2 linked regions of the Homo sapiens genome follow. The protein of the gene in region 1 interacts with the protein of each later gene in a biochemical or structural test. Each region holds a gene or a part of one and is shown in the gene's direction. Other genes may lie near its edges.

What was found.
Region 2: the proteins of USP17L2 (region 1) and ELK1 form a complex in vitro, tested with the Homo sapiens proteins (one study listed by BioGRID).

The regions. Positions count from the first base shown.
Region 1 is NC_000008.11:12,136,574-12,140,497, reverse strand, and holds the start of USP17L2 (ubiquitin carboxyl-terminal hydrolase 17), read left to right. Parts: upstream 1-1,648; 5' UTR 1,649-1,737; coding exon 1,738-3,330; 3' UTR 3,331-3,924. UniProt on the Homo sapiens protein: Deubiquitinating enzyme that removes conjugated ubiquitin from specific proteins to regulate different cellular processes.
Region 2 is NC_000023.11:47,640,554-47,644,377, reverse strand, and holds part of ELK1 (ETS domain-containing protein Elk-1), read left to right. Parts: intron 1-2,902; 5' UTR 2,903-2,936; coding exon 2,937-3,146; intron 3,147-3,824. UniProt on the Homo sapiens protein: Transcription factor that binds to purine-rich DNA sequences. Forms a ternary complex with SRF and the ETS and SRF motifs of the serum response element (SRE) on the promoter region of immediate early genes such as FOS and IER2.

The DNA.
Region 1 (3,924 bases):
TTCTGATGAAGCACACCTGGCCCATGAAAAGACAAAGGAAAGAAACAGGGCCAAAGGTCACAGCCCACTCATTTCATCACCATCCTTAAAATCATCCTAATTTCATGGGCCATGAAGCCAGGGCTGTTTCTTTACACCCAGAGGCCTTGGCGCCGGGCCTCAATTCTGCCCTGTTCCTTACTGTCTAAGACATTTTGGGAAAATCCCTAGAGCCAGGATCTTCATTCCTGGTAAGCCAGAGAGCCTGAAGACACACCCAAATGCTGTCCCTCTTAGTTCAGGGAACATGTCCACTTTCGTCAGCATTACAATTTTTGCATCAAAGGTGCTAACTGCAATTCCACCATACAATGCATAACTGGAAATGGAGGGAACATCTCAGAGCATGAACAACCGATGCGAGAATCCAGGAGATACACGGTTTATTTTTGCCATTTCCCAGTGAAACAAGAGCCAGTATTAAAAAGGTTATGCTACCCTCTGTTTCACTCACTGCTTTTAAACGTCTCCGATGTTTTCTTCTTCAGACAGGGCCTCACTCCCGTCACCCGGGCTTTTCTACGGTATAATTTTCCTTGTTTGCTTTTGTCAAAATTAGAACTTTTTATTTCATCTCTATGAAATGTTGATCCATTATCACGTAAGTATGGAAATAGTATCACCCATGCTGTGAGATACGTTGTTTTTATTTTCATCAGTTCTTTAATAAACAAAAGCTTATAGTTGGGATACCTTTGGATTTCTCAAGTTTTTTGTTTCAAGTTTTCTTAAACTGCCGCCGCACGTCCGAAACCACTCACTATACAATGTCAGGACCATCTCTCTTTTCTGGCACACATAAATTTGGGGAATGTCATCAATTAGTCTCTCGGTGATTGCATGATTTCCCCAAAGTCTTTCACAGCCTACTTTGTGCACTGAGTAACTCTTCAAACTTCAGTGCATGTTTCTACCATTTGATGCTTTATTATTTGGCAGCCTAGCTTCCACAAGAGCATTTCATGCAAAGACTTGTCTTGTTCTCCACTGGCCAGTAATTTCACTCGGATAGAGAGTCAATAGGCTGAACGTGGAAAGGTTATCCCTGGAAGGTCTGTTTGATGCCACGGATATCTCCTTTATTATTAAGGAAGAAAATACGCTGTGCTAAATACTATACTTCATTGACTATTCTCAGGTCAGAAAGCGCACTTCAGACTTCTTGTCCTTCCGTCGATGAGAGGATGACGGTAGCTGCCAAAAGTACATACTTGGAAGTTCATCCCAGCACAAGCACACACACACACACACAAACACACACACACACACACACACACAGAGAGATACACACACGGTTTCATAGGTAAAGATTTCTTCCCTGACATTCTTTTACCTAAAATAAGGCAACTGTGTGGCCACTGTCCCAACCCGGTTACACTCATATTATATGTGCCTATCACCCTGAGGAGTAATTTGATTCAGGTGTTCTAGAAGTCATGATGTGGGCTGTGTCTGTTGAATTCCCAGCGATGCAAGGGGACACACCCTGTGACTCATTCCTTAATTGAGTGCTGATATTTGATTGGTTTATCGCACACCTGATGGGTGGGTGGGGTGTTCGCGGTTGGTGGGGGTGAGTTATATAAGGGCTGATGCGGCCAGAGAGCTCGTCATTTGAAGACTCTCTTGGAAGAGATAGCGTCTTGCTGCAACCTGCAGTCCCAGCAGAAAAACCTTGTGATCCTTGTTGCGGGCGACATGGAGGACGACTCACTCTACTTGGGAGGTGAGTGGCAGTTCAACCACTTTTCAAAACTCACATCTTCTCGGCCAGATGCAGCTTTTGCTGAAATCCAGCGGACTTCTCTCCCTGAGAAGTCACCACTCTCATCTGAGGCCCGTGTCGACCTCTGTGATGATTTGGCTCCTGTGGCAAGACAGCTTGCTCCCAGGAAGAAGCTTCCTCTGAGTAGCAGGAGACCTGCTGCGGTGGGGGCTGGGCTCCAGAATATGGGAAATACCTGCTACGAGAACGCTTCCCTGCAGTGCCTGACATACACACCGCCCCTTGCCAACTACATGCTGTCCCGGGAGCACTCTCAAACATGTCAGCGTCCCAAGTGCTGCATGCTCTGTACTATGCAAGCTCACATCACATGGGCCCTCCACAGTCCTGGTCATGTCATCCAGCCCTCACAGGCATTGGCTGCTGGCTTCCATAGAGGCAAGCAGGAAGATGCCCATGAATTTCTCATGTTCACTGTGGATGCCATGAAAAAGGCATGCCTTCCCGGCCACAAGCAGGTAGATCATCACTCTAAGGACACCACCCTCATCCACCAAATATTTGGAGGCTGCTGGAGATCTCAAATCAAGTGTCTCCACTGCCACGGGATTTCAGACACTTTTGACCCTTACCTGGACATCGCCCTGGATATCCAGGCAGCTCAGAGTGTCAAGCAAGCTTTGGAACAGTTGGTGAAGCCCGAAGAACTCAATGGAGAGAATGCCTATCATTGCGGTCTTTGTCTCCAGAGGGCGCCGGCCTCCAAGACGTTAACTTTACACACTTCTGCCAAGGTCCTCATCCTTGTCTTGAAGAGATTCTCCGATGTCACAGGCAACAAACTTGCCAAGAATGTGCAATATCCTGAGTGCCTTGACATGCAGCCATACATGTCTCAGCAGAACACAGGACCTCTTGTCTATGTCCTCTATGCTGTGCTGGTCCACGCTGGGTGGAGTTGTCACGACGGACATTACTTCTCTTATGTCAAAGCTCAAGAAGGCCAGTGGTATAAAATGGATGATGCCAAGGTCACTGCCTGTAGCATCACTTCTGTCCTGAGTCAACAGGCCTATGTCCTCTTTTACATCCAGAAGAGTGAATGGGAAAGACACAGTGAGAGTGTGTCAAGAGGCAGGGAACCAAGAGCCCTCGGCGCTGAAGACACAGACAGGCGAGCAACGCAAGGAGAGCTCAAGAGAGACCACCCCTGCCTCCAGGCACCCGAGTTGGACGAGCGCTTGGTGGAAAGAGCCACTCAGGAAAGCACCTTAGACCACTGGAAATTCCCCCAAGAGCAAAACAAAACGAAGCCTGAGTTCAACGTCAGAAAAGTCGAAGGTACCCTGCCTCCCAACGTACTTGTGATTCATCAATCGAAATACAAGTGTGGGATGAAAAACCATCATCCTGAACAGCAAAGCTCCCTGCTAAACCTCTCTTCGACGACCCGGACAGATCAGGAGTCCGTGAACACTGGCACCCTCGCTTCTCTGCAAGGGAGGACCAGGAGATCCAAAGGGAAGAACAAACACAGCAAGAGGGCTCTGCTTGTGTGCCAGTGATCTCAGTGGAAGTGCCGACCCACACGTAGGGGTGAACGCACACACACACACGCACAAATACACCCACAAGCGCGCACGCAAACACACACACACACACAAACACGAACACCGTCAATCCTACATAAAGTAATGAGGAGTCCAAGTTTCTGTCTCTACAACAGGGACAACTGGATAGTGATGGCTGCATCTCAGGATGAGCCCACACATGGGAAACATCAAGTTTTGGGGTCGTGAGTCTTCCGAACCTCTGGAGAGACTGTCTGTGTGTTTGTGTTCATGGTAGATGACATTCACTGTGTATTTCTGAATATGACCTACTGACGTGTAGGTTTGAGTGTGAGGTTATTGCAGGGGACTCGGTTTCCTATTTTCTCTTGGGGTGTGTTTCATTCGTCAGTTGTTGGGCGGCACGAGAAGGTGAAATTTTGCTCATGTGGCACATCCATGGATCATTCTCGCCACCTTGAATAGTGGAAACTGGAATGCATTTAGAAGATAGGAACGGTGCTCTTCTTTCTTACCCTGGCTCACCGTTTTTACATTGGTTTCTGAATGGACCTCAGGCGCCCTGGGACTTGTGCTCTTGCTGGAACC
Region 2 (3,824 bases), on another chromosome or scaffold:
AGTATGCACTCACCAAATGCTTGCTAAGTGAAGGAGATGGAAAGAAGTAAACATATCTAAGCAAGGCAGATTACTAGAACTCTTATGAGGGGTCAAGTGGGAGAAATAACAAAATACAAAGCCCTGTGTGCTGTTGAAGCTGGAAGCCCACCGTCACCTTTCACTCAGCTGATAGGTTCTGTTGCAGCTGAAAGAAGAACTGGTAAAATTGCCTGTCTTTGCCACCAGGAGTCACTCTGAACTCTTTGGACTTCTGAAACAAGCCTGCCTGCAAAACAAATTCAGTGAGGTCTCTGGTGACAGGACTCTCTAATCGGACACTTCATGGCTTTGTGACTTGTATAATTGAACAGGAAGCTCATGTTTATTTCCAGTTTGCTCTCAGGAAAGAAAGCAGTAATGGGGTGACAGGGAGGATCCTGTTCTTTGAAGGACATGCTGAGAGGGAATAGTCGGTGTGAGGGGCCGTTTAGCCTAATGGTGAAATGCTTAGTCAACTGGAACCTGACTGCCTGGCTCCAAATGCTGGCTTTGCCACATGTGGCCTGTGGAAGGTACGTAGACATTTGTGCCTCCGCTGCCTCATTTATAAGTTAATGACAGGAAGACTACCTACTTCTCAGAGGCATGATCAGGGATAAATAAGTCAATGCCCATTAAAAAAAAAAATAACAGTACAGGTGTACATGCCCTTACCCAAAACCCCTGGGGCCAGATGTGTTTCAGAATTTCCATTTCTTCACATTTCAGAAAGGTAACATGATGCATATACGATGTTACATAACACCCCTTAGTAAGCTCTGTAATCGGCTGTGTTCATATTTCTGCAGCAAAATGTATGAACACTCGCAATAAGTGAGATTCAATAAAGACCAGAAAGGGCCTTGTTTCATTTCAAATCAGGTTTTGCCACCAAAAGAGTTAAAAGAAGCTTTCTGCCCTTAGAGCATTTTGGATGTTGGAATGGCAGATAAGGGACTATGAACAAATCAGAAACTAATATTTAGAGCTTATCATACACCTCAGGCATATAATATTTAATCTGTACAATATCTCTGTGAACTAGGTATTGTTATCCCCATTTTACTAATGGGCATATCATTATCCCTGTTTTACACATGAGAAAATTGAGGTACAAAGAGGTTAAAGAATATCAGCCAAGCGTGGTGCCTCATGCCTGTAATCCTAGCACTTTAGGAGGCCAGGGAGAGAGGATTGCTTGAGCCCAGGAGTTCAAGAACAGCCTGGGCAACATAGTGAGACCCCATTTCTTAAAAAAAGAAAAAGAATATGCCCAGGGTCACACAGCTAATAAGTGGCAGAACCAGGATTCAAACACTGGCAATCTGGCCCTAGTGCCTGGGCAGTTGTCCAGCAGGCCATATTGCCTCTCTGCTTAGAAGAGTGCCTGATGTGTATTAAGCTCTCAATAGATGTTAATTATTGCTGTCATCAAGAAAGAGAATATTCAGGGCCGAGCACGGTATCTCACACCTGTAATCCTAGCACTTTGGGAAGCCAAGGTGGGAGGTGGGTGGATCACTTGAGGTCAGGAGTTCAAGACCAGTCTGGCCAACATGGTGAAACCATGTCTCTACTAAAAATACAAAAATTAGCCGGGCGTGGTCGTGGGTACCTGTAATCCCAGCTATGCGGGAGGCTGAGGCATGAGAATCGCTTGAACCTGGGAGGCAGAGGTTGCAGTGAGTCAAGATTGTGCCACTATACTGCGCTCCAGCCTGGGCAACAGAGAGAGACTCCATCTCAAAAAAAAAGAAAAAAAAAAAAAGAACGAGAACATTCAGGGACAGTAACAGGACAGAGAGATCAGGCATTCATTCAGTTTTAGGACGGCTTCATAAAGGAAAGGACCTTTGGGCTGGGACTTGAAAGATAAGAAAGACTGCTAGGCGAAAGAAGGAAGCCCCACGTGGAGTGAGCAGCCTTTGCAAGGGTCTGGCAAAAAAAAAACCTCCTGAAAAACTTGACATTGATATGGTAGAAGATACAGATAATATTCAAATGAGGAGGATGGAACTAGTTTTCTATTCTTGCTGTAACAAATAATCACAAATTTAGCTGCTTAAAACAACACATTTGTTATCTTACAGTTCTGTAGGTCAGAAGTCCCACACTGGTCTCAGCTGAAATCAAGGTATTGGCAGGGTTGCGTTCCTTCTGGAGGCTCTAGGGGAAAATCCATTTCCTGCTCATTCAAGTTGTTGGCAGAATCCAATTCCTTGAGATTGTAGGACTGAAGTCCCTGTTTCCTTACTGTCTGTCAGCTGACAGCCATTCCCAGCTTTAAGAGGCTGCCCACAGTCCTTGATTCTGAGCCTCCTTCCTCCATCTTCAAAGCCAACAATGGCAGGTTGAGTCCCTCTCACATTTTGAATCTCCCCTGCCTCTTCTGTCATCACATCTCTGAGCTACCTTTCTTTCTCCATCATCTGCTTTTCAGAGCTCATATGATTAGATTGAATTTCATCAAATAATCCAGAAATAATCTCCCTGTCTTAGGGTTTGTAACCTTAATTTCATCTGCAAAGTTCCTTTCTGCTATGTAGTGTAAATAACATACAGGTTCCGAGGATTAGGATGCGGAGCAGGGTTGGCATCATTTGGCCTACCACAGTCTGCCCTCTGACCCCCACAGATTCACATTTGTTTCACATTCAAAATACATTCACACCATCCTAAGATACCCATGAGTTGTATCCCATCACAGGGAGCATCCCAAGCAAGACTGGGGAGCTAGAAGTTAGTCTGGGAAGGTTTAGGGAATGATGGTAGGGTTTGAAGACAGAGATGGAGAAAAGATGACAAAAAAAGGAATCCTCCTCCCGCTGACCTCTGCCCCTCCTATGTCCACAGCCTCTCAACTCAGCTGTTTGCTCTCCAGGTACCCCTGGGATGGCGTGAGCACTCCCCCAGCGATGGACCCATCTGTGACGCTGTGGCAGTTTCTGCTGCAGCTGCTGAGAGAGCAAGGCAATGGCCACATCATCTCCTGGACTTCACGGGATGGTGGTGAATTCAAGCTGGTGGATGCAGAGGAGGTGGCCCGGCTGTGGGGGCTACGCAAGAACAAGACCAACATGAATTACGACAAGCTCAGCCGGGCCTTGCGGTACTACTATGACAAGGTACAGTCTCTCAGACCAGGGCTGGAACCCCCCCCTGACATTTATATCAGAGATTTTATTTTGTTTTAATTGCCATAGCTATGACTTTGAAAGCAATGTTAAAATTTATCAGTTTTTAACCCATCCATTGGTACCCTAAGACCAGTATTGGGCCCCTAAACACTATCTCACCTACTTTCTTGTCTTACTGCTTTGGCGAAAACCACCACTGCATTATTAATACTGACTCTTTCTACTCCCACTCTGAGATCCCCAAAGTGATGCTGCCCTGCCATGCACAACGTTTCATTTTCCTGCCGTATTCCTATAGCCAACATCTTGAAAACACGGTTAATAATGGCTGGTCCTCATTCTGTCCTCTGAAACCCCTGGACCAGTGCTGGGCTTCCCTAGTTATTTCATAGTCTTCTCTTATTCCAGAATATTTCATATTCCTAGAATCAAAACCTCCCTGACAGTATTATACCAACTTTTGCTTACTTCGTCCTCTGGGACTCCCAACATTTTTAACTAATTATTTTCTTCTCTTATTCCTTAAGCTAAAACCTCTGAAACAACATGTTTAATGCCAACTTCCACACACTGTCTTCTTAAATTCCCAGAGGAGCACTGGTCTACCCCAATATTTATATCAATTGTTTTCATTATCTTATTCCTACAGCTAAAATTTAAAATTTC